Regions from separate parts of the Homo sapiens genome. Here regions 1, 2 and 3 are each reported to be linked to region 4. The links are microRNA targets in miRTarBase. Many come from high-throughput screens and were not tested one by one. Region 4 holds a microRNA gene; each other region holds the end of a gene's coding sequence.

Region 1 (3,168 bases), not on the chromosome of region 4:
CTCCAATTGTCCCCAGAATGGCTCCCTTCAGGGAGTCATGTTCCGGGACACCAAATGAGGGAAAATATCCTTCTCCTACAGTTTCCTGCTCACATTTGGATTGAGAAATGGGATGTCTCTAAATAATGTGTCTAAATTCTCTTAACATAAGTGCATATGTTACGAGAGATCTGATCCCAGCCTCCCTTTTTTGTTAAAGTGGTGGTGCTTTGCCACCCATGTCAAAATGATCTGGGCTTTCCACATCAAATGCAAGGGATGAGCTTGGAGGACATACCCCAGTACCAGCAATGATCTTGAGCCAATGGCAGCGTCAGCTCACAACGGGGTGATTGAGGCTTCTTGGTTAGAAGCTTTAGAAACTTGAGGTCAGTAAAACCCAAATTGATCCTTTCTCTAGATCCTCTAGATTTCTCTAGAGGAAAAGGTGACAAAAACAGACACTTGTGCTCACCGTCAGGGGCACAATGCTGTCCGTCAATCCTCATGCAGTCCTCCCCACCATTTCGCACACTGACACCATCACTACTTTATGATAAAAGGAGACTCAGGCAGCTTAGATAACAGCTGAAACTCAGCCAGCTATGACATGGAACCTCTGAGGCCCAGCTCCTTGCCTGGTCAACCCCCAAGCCCACAGAAATGGGTTTCACACTCAGGCAAAGCACTGGGCCCGACTGACTGAGCAAATGTAATTTTATGCTTACATTATTGATCCTGCTTTAATATCAGCCATTTCGTACAGGTCTCAGAAAGAGAAAGGCCTGCCATCGAATTCAAATGACTTTGGTCTTTAAATGAAAAAGCACAATGTTTCTCAAATATCCAATTTTATTTTATCATTCTCGCATTGTGGGATGCGATCTGCAGCTAGGATCGGAATTCCCAGGCCTATAGATTTTTAAACCACACCACAGGGGTAAACCTTAAAAGAAGTGAAACCTAACACTATATATATTTCCATTTCTAAATACAGTATATTACAGAAGTTTAAATATACCACCTCTGTGTACTTACAACTATAAAAAGATACAATAACTCTACCAATTATAAATAATGTAGCATTTCATATTAAAGACATTATCGTACAATGGAAGAATAGGAACCCTCTAACGTATCACTATCAAGGTTAGTGTCTATATCTACTTGAGATAAAATACTGAAAATTCAGTGTATGAAGCCAAATCCTGATTTAACAAGTTATTGGTAGTATAAGTGATAAGTGTTAGCTGATGAAGGGAAGGCAAATGTGGTAATTTATATCTCTGACAAGGGTGATAGGCCCATTTTATACATGGTTTTCGTTATACACACACTGGTTCTGTTACGGGCCCTCATTTTATTATTGCCCTCCCCAACTTAATTTGCAAACTTAAGCACTACTTTCCCAATTAGGAAAGTACTAGTTAGTAACCATAAAAGTATCCGTCGGATAACACATTTGTTTTTGTTTTTGAAGCTATATGGGAACACTTTCAGTTTCCCAAGTTAAAACATGAAATTGCACATCATCATTTGGATCCCCAAAGAGGAAAAGAAAAATTCACAACCTGCCAGTGAAATACTCAGGCCACTTGGATGAAGACCGAGGTCCTCCATAGAATCCAGGTGTTATTTACTAACTAATCAGAAATTAATATCAAAATAGGACTTAAAAATAACAAGGCTGTGTTATTACAGCAGTCTTTCCAGTTGTGTACGCTTTACTAATCTAAATTGGGTAACAGAACTGGAGAAAAGGAAGACTACACAGACTTATCATAAGCTGTTAGTGAACGTGATAGAAATGCGTAATTTGTTAAAGCGAATTACAGCTCTGATTTGTCAAATGAGGAGGTGAATTATCCTAGGATTTGCTATGCTGTTGTGGCGTTAGAAGATTGGATCTTTAGCAGCAAAGGTAACCTCAACAATATTTTCTGCTTAAGAAAGTGCCTTGGTTAAGGTAGACCGTGATATCGTCTTTGACTAAGCTCTCTGGGCTATTGATTCTGTCATATTCCAAAGGCAGTATTGGTTTGAAGCCGAATCTCACGGTCAATGTCAACATGCAATCCACAAAGACCCTGGCGCCCTTCCACGGTATGCACTAACCAAAACTTTCTCACTGTGAAATCCTTTTTTTAAAAACAAGAAAACAAAAAACAAAAACCAAAAAACCTTACTGTGAATCCTTTCCCAAGGAATGGTCCCACCTTCACCTCGGAAAGAGGCGTGGCTTGCTCTGTAAGCAGGTCCACCCTGAGGAGACCGCTGGTGCAAGAGCCCTGCTTGCAGAACACACAGGGGGTTTTCCCACATTCTTACTGGAGTCAGATTCGGCAAAGCATTTCAAGCAACTGCTGGACACTTCAAATACCACTCCCTGTTAACAACGCCCTGAGTATCTCACTGTCTCCAGGATCTGGTTTAAAGGGAAACACAGAAATGGCCAACAGCTCCCTCCCCAGGCAGGACTGCGATTTCACAGACAACCTATAGGCATCCCCAGTCTGGTGAATAAACAGGAGAGTGAGAGGAAAACAGCAATCATTCAACTCCAGTAGATGTAAAGCCTCCAGAAGAATGTGTCCCGGGAAGGTCAGAAATGTCATTTTTTTCCTCCAGCACATTTCATCTGCCACATTCCGCCGTCCGATGTTTGAGGAAGGAGCCCCGCCTTTCCTTCAGGGGTTCTTGTCGCCAAGTTTGATGGTGACAGTTTTCACTTCTGTGTATTCGGCCAAAGCGTATTCACCTCTGTGATCACAGAAAAGAGGAAAATTCAAAATGGGTACATCCCTTAGCCATTGTGTAGAAACTGTTCTGAGGCTTCATCATTCCATCAGGCCGTTGGAGGCTTATGCAAAAGGTTAAAATGTGACGACCTCATGGAATAATAGCCAGGACTATAACAGCACTAGTAAGTGTCAGTAGCTGCATATGTGACTTAAATGTAAATATCAAGGTCTTCTTCTGTGTGATGCTTTTGAAATGGCCAGGACTAAGGGTTTCCCTTTAGAGAATGAAGGGGATTTTAAAAAAAGTAAAGAGGTGAATTCCCTGGGGTGGCAATAGAGAGCAAAACGAGAGAGCCTGGTGGACGGTGGGGTGTCTGTGAACGAGGGAGGGGCAGAAATTACACTGGGTTGATAACTTTTAGATGGCAATTGGGAGCTGCTTGAAGAG
Region 2 (3,168 bases), not on the chromosome of region 4:
ATAATGGAAAGATTTTAGATAAAATAGAAAACTTTTTAAAGAAATTCAACTATATCCTAAAACTTGACCTGGTCAAACTTATTCCATATTATATTCAGTTGCTCTAATATACAGCAGGTTGATACTAAAATAATGACAGAATTTGGCTGGTCTAAACATACAAATATATTTTCCCCCTTTTCTTTCTTTGGGAAAATAAGAAAAAAAACATTACTCTGTTTACTCAGAAAGCAAGGAGAGCAGCACCTTCTCCTGGACTCCGTGACTGTCAGCCATCTTGTCATCACAAAAAGGTGAGGGGTGCCAGGATTTCACTATGCTGCTCCTTCACTGGAAAGGGAAGGAAATGCTCCAGCTGTTTTAATCAGTGACATTTATTAACATGCTTCAAAAGTGACCAAAGTGTCCAGCCAGCACAATAGCCGAGGCAATCAACGTTCTCTTAGTGTGTGATCTCCTCCAAAACACCAAATAAATAGGTTTAGGAATAACCTCAAATAAATTGTAATTTAACTTCGCCCAAAATTATACATCCTCTACTGCTCTTCCCTGCTCCTGTAAAGATACTAGCGGGAGGGGAGAAAGCTCAAATGACTCTGTAATTTAGAATTACAACCAGAGAAGAAATACTTCAAGCACAATAAAGACGTTCCATTGAAGAGCGACATTCATTCTGGAATGTTTGTTTTGAAAACAACTCTTCTGGGGGAATTCAAAAGGTACTGAACAAAGCAACATAAAGTAAGTTTTGGGTTGTTTTGCAAAATAAAAATATACAATTGAGTGGACCAGATGGCAAAAACATACCAATTACAATCTGAATGCTATATTTAAAACCCTTAAATTCTGAAGGCCTGAATATCAACAAACCTATTTATGTTTATGATCCTAAAAAGACATTAAATATTATTAAACCCCCAACTTCCAAAACATAGAGACCCAGCAAACTGGGCTAGTGGTATCTCAGTACACAGTCACACATGACTAGACTAGACTAGACTAGACTAGACTAGAGATCTGAGTTTGCAACCAAGTACAAGAGGTCTTTAGGAGCTCAGGCTAAGGGAGGCACTTTATTCAAATGCATGGCCTGAGAGAAGAGGGAAAGTACCTTGTAATCTTAAACTATGTGGTCCATCATATATTCTACCTCAAAGACAATCTAGACTACGGTATCTCCTCTTAAACTGCCAGTTCAGAACAAAATATACTTTATTTGGAAGCTAAATATTTGCTTCACTCAAGTGAAGAATAATTTAGCAGCGACAGAGAACACAACTCCTGTTTTAACCATGGGAAAGAGAAGAGAGAGTGGTAAGTATCTCGCTGGGGAAATCAAAAGATTTCTGGGTCTGTCTGGGTGTATCATATTATGAGCTTGATTCTTCAACCGTCACTCCATTTGGTAGTCAGGGAGAAAGTAAGTGTAGCTGCAAGGGGAAATGGAAAGAACTACCCTGCCCTTCTGCACCCCCAGCCAGGCCCACTAGCTGCGGTGCTGTGCACAACTCCAGTTCCAATGCTTCCCTCCACAGTGGAGGCATATCCAGGGCTGAACCAGATGCACGCCCACAGTGTGTTTCTGGCTCAGAGCCTGTCAGGAAATTCATGTCTGGGAAGAAACTAAGTGTTCTGGTGATGGCTACAGTCAGTAGATCTACCAGCAATTTGTCCCTTTTTTTGTTTCAGATTTTAAGGCAGAAACTCAATCTCAGCAGCTAATTTCATCCAATTTTCTTCAGAAACATTCTCCAATTTAGTTGAGTACGCAAGAAAAGTGTGTGAACATTCACTCCTGTCCTCCCCACATACATATATAGACATACAATAAGAAACATACATACATATATACCCTAGATTGTCAATGTATGCTGCTGAAATGCCTGAAAGGTTACTTTTCACTTAAAAATAAAATTTGATGAATTATTCTGCAAGTATGGATTTGGCCCTAGCAAATTTTTATAAATATAGTTTGAGAGGACAGCAACAAAGGTTTTAACTAGAAGCTGTCTTGAGGGTTTTCCTGATAGATATTGTTAATATGTATGTTATTTAAAACAGGCATATCCTTATGGATTATAAAAATAGAAATGTATATATTTGTTAATACATATTCACAGCTTATGCTGGAATGGCTCACAGGAGAAATCATGGTTCATGCAGAGAATAAACATTACTCAAGTAAATAAAAATAAGATTAGGTCCATAAAGGCTGAGAACTTATAGTCAGTAATCAGCTCATTTGGTTTCTCTTTGTAGGGCAATCAAAAACATGAAAGGTGGTGACACATAAAACACACACAGACATACAATTACATGAATTACATGGAAAGAATATAAATTAACCAATAAAGCAATGTGGAGTTAAGGTGCAAAAATACAATCTTCATCGATTTTCTCTACTCCTGTGTTTTCAAGCATCACAACATGTTAAATGTCATGGGTGGCAATACCAACCCAGACAGGTCTGAATGTTTGTAGATTTTCTAAGTGTTGAAAGTTAAAGCAAGATCCTTTGAGATCTACGATCACACATTTTGGTAGAAATTGCAGATTTACAGAGATGACTACTGAGCAGTAGGTAGTAAATGGAGCCAAGAAGTACACTCTTGCCCATCCATCTTCCATGGGAATCAGAATATTGGCTTCAATCACTGACTCATCTTTATATAATCTTCACCCTGAAAAATAAAAGTTACCAATGTAAGAATGTTTTTAGAGTCAATAAAGTTTGATTAATCTGTTTTAAGATGCATAAATTTTTTTTTTCAGTTTAGTATCTTCAGTAAGGCTAATTTTTAAAAATACAGACTAAAAAAAAGCTGATTTGGCTTTTTTCCATTAATTTAATTTAGATGAAGCCAAATGTTTTAATTTTTAAACATTTCAGTAGCTTTTGGGGTAGAAGTGGTTTTTGGTTACGTGGGTGAATTGTATAGTGGTGGAGTCTGATATTTTAGTGCACTTGTCAACCTAGATGAAGACAAATGTTATCTAATAAAAGTTATCAAAAAGCCGATTTCTTCAATTTTGTAAAAAATACTGAAAACATAAGAAGTTTGTTCTAGATGGGCGTGGTAGCTCACACCTGTAATCCTAGCACTTTGGGAGGCCAAGGCGGGTGAATTACCTGAAGTCAGGAGTTCAAGACCAGCCTGGCCAACATGG
Region 3 (3,161 bases), not on the chromosome of region 4:
CTGGAGTGCAGTGGCGCCATCTCGGCTCACCGAAACCTCTGCCTCCCAGGTTCAAGTGATTCTCCTGCCTCAGTCTCCCAAGTAGCTGAGACTACAGGCACCTGCCACTATGCCTGGCTAATTTTTGTAGAGATGGAGTTTCACTGTGTTGGCCAGGCTGGTCTTGAGCTCCTGATCTTGTGATCCGCCCGCCTTGGCCTCCTGAAGTGCTGGGATTACAGGTGTGAGCCACTGTGCCCGACTGGTGGGAAGAATCTTCTATGGCTTAAAAAACAAACGTAGGCTGGGTGTGGTGGCTCAGGCCGGGTATGGTGGCTCATGCCTGTAATCATCCCAGCACTCTGGGAGGTTGAGGCGGGTGGATCACCTAAGGTCAGGAGTTCGAGACCAGCCTGACCAACATGGAGAAACCCCATCTCTACTAAAAACACAAAATTAGCCAGGTGTGGTGGCGCATGCCTTAATCCCAGCTACTCGGGAGGCTGAGGCAGGAGAATCGCTTGAACCTGGGAGGCAGAAGTTGTGGTGAGCCGAGATCACGCCATTGCACTCCAGCCTGGGCAACAGAGTGAAACTCCATCTCAAAAAACAACGACAACAACAACAACACAACAACAAACGCAGCAATTCCATTCCTAGGTGTACACCCAAAAAAATTGAAAACAGGTATTCAAACAAATATTTGTACACAAATGTTCACTGAAGCATTATTCACAATAGCCAAAAGAAGGAAACAACCCAAATCATCAACAGATACCGGATAAACAAAATATGATATCCATACAATGGAATATTATTTAGCCATAAAAAGGAATAAAGTACTGATACATGCTATAATGTTGGTTAAACTTGAAAATATGATGATGTCCCGGTGTGGTAGCTCACACCTATAATCCCAGCACTTTGGGAGGCCGAGGCAGTTGGATCACCTGAGGTCAGCTCAGGACCAGCTGGGCCAACATGGTGAAACCCTGTCTCTATACTAAAGGTACAAAAATTAGCTGGGCGTGGTGGTACACACTAGTAATCCCAGCTACTTGGGAAGCTGAGGCAGGAGAATCTCTTGAACCTGGGAGGCGGAGGTTGAGATTGCGCCATTGCACTCCAGCCTGGGCAATAAGAGTAAAACTCTGTCTCAAAAAAAAAAAAAAAAAGAAAAGAAAATATTATGCTAAGTGAAAGAAGCCAGATACATAAAAAGGTCACATATCATATGATTCCATTTATATGAAATATCCAGAATAGGTAAATCCACAGAGACAGGGTGCAGATTAGTGGCTATTGTTAGCAGTCGGAGGAGAAGGGAATGGGGACTAACTGCTTAATAGGTATAGGGCCTCCTTTGGGGGTGATAAGAATGTTCTGCAACTAGAGAGTAGTGATGGTTGCACACCACTGTAAATGTTCTGCCAACGAATGGTACACTTTAAAATGGTGAATTTTATGATATATGAATTTCACCTCTTTTAAGTTCCAAATAAGGCATCAGTGTAGCGGAGGTCCTCTAATCTGTCTGGTTGGCAAAGCACCTAGTAGTTTACAGTACAGAAGAAGCTTTAAAAATGCTTTTAATTTGTATAAAGTGCAAAGAAAAAGAATATTGAGAAGCACATGAAAGAATATAAAATGGCTAGAGCCTAAAAAATAAGCTAATATACACGCATAGGGACACATCTGCATATTTGAGCATACAGAGACATGTAAATACTCAGGAGAGAAATTTGCTTTTCCTCATAACTTATTTTGTGTTTCTCCAAAACCTGAAGAGTAGATAACAGCTGACAGTTACCCCCCTCTGAGTGTGACAAGAGGTCACGCACAGGGAGGGCCTCTAGCTGCCATTTCCTGTTGCTTCCCTGGTCAAACAACGCAGGCGGCTAAGTCACTTTAGGAAACGCTCAACAGGGCTCCCATTGTTCCAACCTCAAAATTCCGAGATACAACGGGCCCCATTAATACAGACAGCTTACAGGCTGGGGGATGGTCCCTTAGTGTGCAGTCCACTTTTTATTGGGACACTGAATTTTCAAAAACACTGACTTGCACAAATAGTGTTAATTATTTTTTTTAAATGGTACAGAAATAAAATTCAAAAGATACTAAACTGGGAGTCAGGACACCTGAGTCTTACCCTCAGCTCTCTGATGCGACTTTAAGCAAAGTCGCTTGCTCTTTCTGGACCTCAGTTTCCTTGTTTGTAAAAACAGAAATGATTTCTAAGATCACTCAGAATTGTAAAATTCTATGAACACTTATGAAGTCTATTGAGCTTGCGTCACTGTTCACTCCAATGAGTGGGGATAAGTTGTAAGCAGAAAAATATCATTACTTCACATCTTTTCGTTCACTATCAACACTTAAAAACAAACAGCCTTAATAAAAATCAAGTCCACTTTGTTTTCTCTCTTAAACAGACAAATCATAACGAACAGAGTCCAGTGAGTCCCTCTGTCGCAACAAGTTCAGGATCACTCAAGCAGGTAACCGCACACAACGCACAATGATGAAGAGCATAAACACAAGCCATAAGTATATTTTTATGTCGCTTTTTCTTAGGTTATTGATGCATTTCCAGAATCTCTTCATTTCTTTGCAATAACTGAAAACCCCAGAAGAAAGACACCATTTACATTAAGAATGTGATCAATGTTACAAGCTTCTGCACCATGTCATTTTTTTGTTTTTTCAACCTCAAAACTTGCCAGAGCAAGAATTTTGTCTCCAGAGCCTAAGAAAAAAGACACATAATAAACAAAAAGATTATTTCAAGTGCAGTTGCAATTCCTGGTAAAGTGGGAAAAAATCTATCATATAGATATTAAAACAGAAAATATAATTAGCCTCCATTATCAGTGTATTAACCCCTACACGTTCCCATTGCCATCCCAATTTCCTTCCCTCTGCACAAACAATCCAGCTACAAAGGGGGACTTATTAGTTATAAATCCTTATTCTAGCTATGAAATATAATATGTAAAATTTAATTTATTTATTTATTTATTTTTTTGAGATGGAGTTTCGCTCTTGTCGCCCAGGCTGGAGTGCAGTGGTGCGATCTCGGCTCACTGCAACTTCCACCTCCTGGGTTCAAGCAATTATCCTTGCCTCAGCCTCCCTAGTAGCTGGGATTACAGGCACGTGCCACCATGCCCAGCCAATTT
Region 4 (3,168 bases):
TATATTCTTCTCTCCCCCCTCTTAGGCTCTTCCATGCTTTCCATGAGTTTCTTATATAATGAGAAGCAGCATATAATACATATTATTTCTAAAAATAACTGAAATAATTAAAAGCCTTCTGCTGGCAAATCTACAAGACAATGACAGTAAACACTGTCCAAGGTGAGGGGCAGCAGTGAGGGGTAACCACAGTCACTGTCTCTGCTGCCCTTCACCTTCACCTTTTTGACCTTCCAGTGGACACCGCTAGTAGCACTTCTCAAACTGGAATCCTCTGCATCTTTTCAGAACGTCCAGGACTGGCATTGCTGGTACCCACTCCTCCTCTTTCACTCTTGTCCTCCCTTAGAGGCAAACCTGCAAATCACCTCTCATGAATAATCCCCTCATCCATGATGTGAAGTACACCTACTCTTCCCAATGCCCACCACCTACTAATGGCCATCAGCACCTCCAAAAGCATCTACCCAGCCTCCTTCCACCTTGAGGCCACCTTGTCAGGAGAGTCCTTTGCCTAATGCAGACTCATCATACTCCTGTGACAGTTTTTCTTTCTTCTCAGTTTTAGGTTCTGATTTCATGTCTTTGTAGTGCTTGTTTCAAAGACAGGAAGTGAAGGAGGAGGGAAGATAGAAATGTCAGACTTTAGTCACTGTTTCTGAGTCTGTGATGTAACACTGTCCTCTGTCTGTCCAGGCTTAACAAATTCAACTGTTTTCTTTTTCCATTCTTTTTTTTTTTTTTTTTTGTACAGACAGGGTTGTACAATGTTACACTATGTTGACGAGGATGGTCTTGAACTCCTAGCCTCAAGCAATCATCCTGCCTTGGCCTCCCAAAGTGCTGGGATCGTAGGCATGAGCCACCACGCCCAGCCGTCTTTTTTTTCGGACAGGGTTTTGCTCTCTCAACCCAGGCTGGAGTACAGCAATATGATTACTGCTCACTGCAGCCTCAACCTCCTGGGCTCAAGTGATCTTCCTGCCTCAACCTCCTGAATAGCTGGAGCTACAGGTGCATGTCACCACACCTGGCTGACTTTTAAATTTTTTTGTAAAGATGGCGTTTCCCCATGTTGCCCAGGCTGGTCTTGAACTCCTGGGCTCAAGCAATCTTCCTGCCTCAGCTTCCCAAAATGCTGGGATTACAGGCCTGAGCCACTGCACCCAGCAAATTCAACTGTTCTCAAGTTCTGTGTCGTTGGAGTCTTACTGATTCACGAGCACTCATTGGCCTCTCTTCCTCACCTCTTCTCACCCCTCCTTACCAGAGAGATGGGAAAAACACTGTCTTAGCTGGGGAAGCATTTCTCAGCAGCATTCAGGGAGTTCAGTCCACTTCCTCCTTCATGCTTGACTTCCCTTCAATTCAGACCAGGCTATATTCATCAAATGACGTTCTGGACTCCATTTTTTGAACAGAATAACAAGGACACATCAAACAAATTTGCTGTGGGAAATGTGTCAACATGAAAACAATATAACAGGTGATTTGTCCAATGTGACGTACCCACCCTTCTCATCCAAGAAGTGAGGCAGTCCAACCTGCTTTAGACATATGTCAGAAACAGTTACAAAATGCTCAAGCTTGGCCTCTGTAAATTCATTCTATTGAGCTGACTGGCTTGTATGGAGGTTCTAGACCATGTTAGTGTTCAAGTCTACATGGATGGAAACCTTCAAGCAGGCCAAGCAGGAGACAGGTGGAAGAAGATGTGTGCATTTGAGGGCCTCGCTGTGGGGCTTGTGGTGGTGTTGAGTGGGTAATTAATGTCAGCATCAGAAAGGGAATTCTGCCTCTGGAGAAGAAGAACTAAAAGACTGAAAATAGGGCCACTATTTTCTGAGTTTCTGAGCTTTATTTCACTCTTATCTGAGCATCTGTTGACTCTTGAGAAAAGTTGATCACACATTTCTAATAGTGTATTAAAGTGTATTGGAAGCTTCTGCTCACCATTGCAATGGAAAAGGCATTAGTTAGATTAGCTTCTCCACCAGAGTGGGTGCAGCATTTCTAAGACTTACTGATCTAACTCTGCCCCAAATCTCTCATTCTTCTGTCCAGGAGCTACCCTGTGAACACAGACATGTGTTGTCCAATATGGTAGCCCATAGCTGCATGCAGTGCAGTTATTTAAATTTGTTTAAAATTAAATGAAATAATTCCTTGTTTGCACTACACACATGCCAAGGACTTTGTGGCACATGCGTATCAGTGGCTTTTGTATTAGACGGTGCAGACGCAGAGTGTTTCCATCATTACAGAAAGCTCTGTTGGATGGCACTGGCCTAGATGCTTGTTTTCAGCATCTGACTATGTGAAGTATGGGCTGTGTATCTCTCCACCCTCTGAGGTTAGAACTGTGAGCAGCAGAACCTAAATGGGTTTTGCATACCAATCCTCTTTCTGCTTTCCACATCTTCTTTGTCATCCAACTTTTTTTATCATCCAAATTTTATTACAACCTTTGTCTTCATGTTTCTCCATAAGGTATGATGCTACATTGCAAGGATCAAGTTGAAGTTTAGATTATGCTTAAATTAAAACTGCGACTGTTTTCCTATGTTTTATTTTACTCGTCACGATAAATGAAGCCAGCAGCTGCTCTTCTATGCAGCATTTGGACTCTGAGTTAAAACTTCAGTCACCCGGGATCGCTTGTTTTATATTGCTGTTTTGTTTTTTTTTTTAACATTGAGGAACTTAATGAAGAACATAATCATTGCCAGTGGCCAGTTTAAATATTGACTTGCAGATATTTTTTCAAACCTTAGAATTTGAAATTCAGAAACAAGTGAAACCTGAGTAAGAGACGTGATAGAAAACCAAAGAATGTCACGACCATGGTCAGTGTTTTCTGTGATAGATTTGTTACTGAAAAAATTGTGGTTAAGGAACATCTGGTAAGTCAATCAGGTTTTAAATGTATTGAGAAAGCATAAGAAAAGTTGCTAAATTATTTTTTAAAATGACTTAAACTACCTTCTAATTCATTTGGTAAAATTCAGAAGTTTATGTACTATGTTGTTATCCCTGCAAGGCTATACCTATGACCAATTCATTAAGTACAAAATTAAGGCAAGTTGTTTAGGGTCAAGTAGATGAAACTTTTGTTGGTTTTATATATATATATATTTGGAGATAGGGTCTTGCTTTATCACCCAGGCA

Evidence for each region. The annotated mature microRNA hsa-miR-4802-3p reads UACAUGGAUGGAAACCUUCAAGC and lies in region 4 at 1,662-1,684, shown strand. An mRNA with a match to its seed (bases 2 to 7 or 8) in the 3' UTR can be bound and repressed. Matches are read on the target gene's strand: a 7mer-m8 pairs with bases 2 to 8, a 7mer-A1 pairs with bases 2 to 7 and ends in A, and an 8mer does both.
Region 1: the mRNA of ALDH1A3 is a reported target of hsa-miR-4802-3p. Seed matches in the 3' UTR shown: 7mer-A1 at 1,292-1,298.
Region 2: the mRNA of CREBL2 is a reported target of hsa-miR-4802-3p. Seed matches in the 3' UTR shown: 8mer at 2,323-2,330.
Region 3: the mRNA of LZIC is a reported target of hsa-miR-4802-3p. Seed matches in the 3' UTR shown: 7mer-m8 at 400-406.

What each region holds. Positions count from the first base shown.
Region 1 is chr15:100,914,272-100,917,439 of GRCh38, reverse strand. ALDH1A3 (aldehyde dehydrogenase 1 family member A3) reads right to left here. Exons shown (of 13, transcript NM_000693.4): 13 at 814-2,739. The coding sequence ends at 2,667. All of the region lies in intron 1 of ALDH1A3-AS1 (ALDH1A3 antisense RNA 1), which reads left to right. Among named protein-coding and RNA genes, the nearest start is that of ALDH1A3-AS1, 3.4 kb to the left of the region's middle.
Region 2 is chr12:12,641,507-12,644,674 of GRCh38, reverse strand. CREBL2 (cAMP responsive element binding protein like 2) reads right to left here. Exons shown (of 4, transcript NM_001310.4): 4 at 1-2,681. The coding sequence ends at 2,677. Among named protein-coding and RNA genes, the nearest start is that of CREBL2, 31 kb to the right of the region's middle. RefSeq lists an enhancer at 164-1,363.
Region 3 is chr1:9,927,730-9,930,890 of GRCh38, forward strand. LZIC (leucine zipper and CTNNBIP1 domain containing) reads right to left here. Exons shown (of 8, transcript NM_032368.5): 8 at 1-2,728. The coding sequence ends at 2,670. Among named protein-coding and RNA genes, the nearest start is that of LZIC, 14 kb to the right of the region's middle. RefSeq lists enhancers at 85-594, 3,084-3,161.
Region 4 is chr4:40,500,567-40,503,734 of GRCh38, reverse strand. It overlaps MIR4802 (microRNA 4802), which reads left to right and starts at 1,616; the gene lies at 1,616-1,695. All of the region lies in intron 2 of RBM47 (RNA binding motif protein 47), which reads left to right.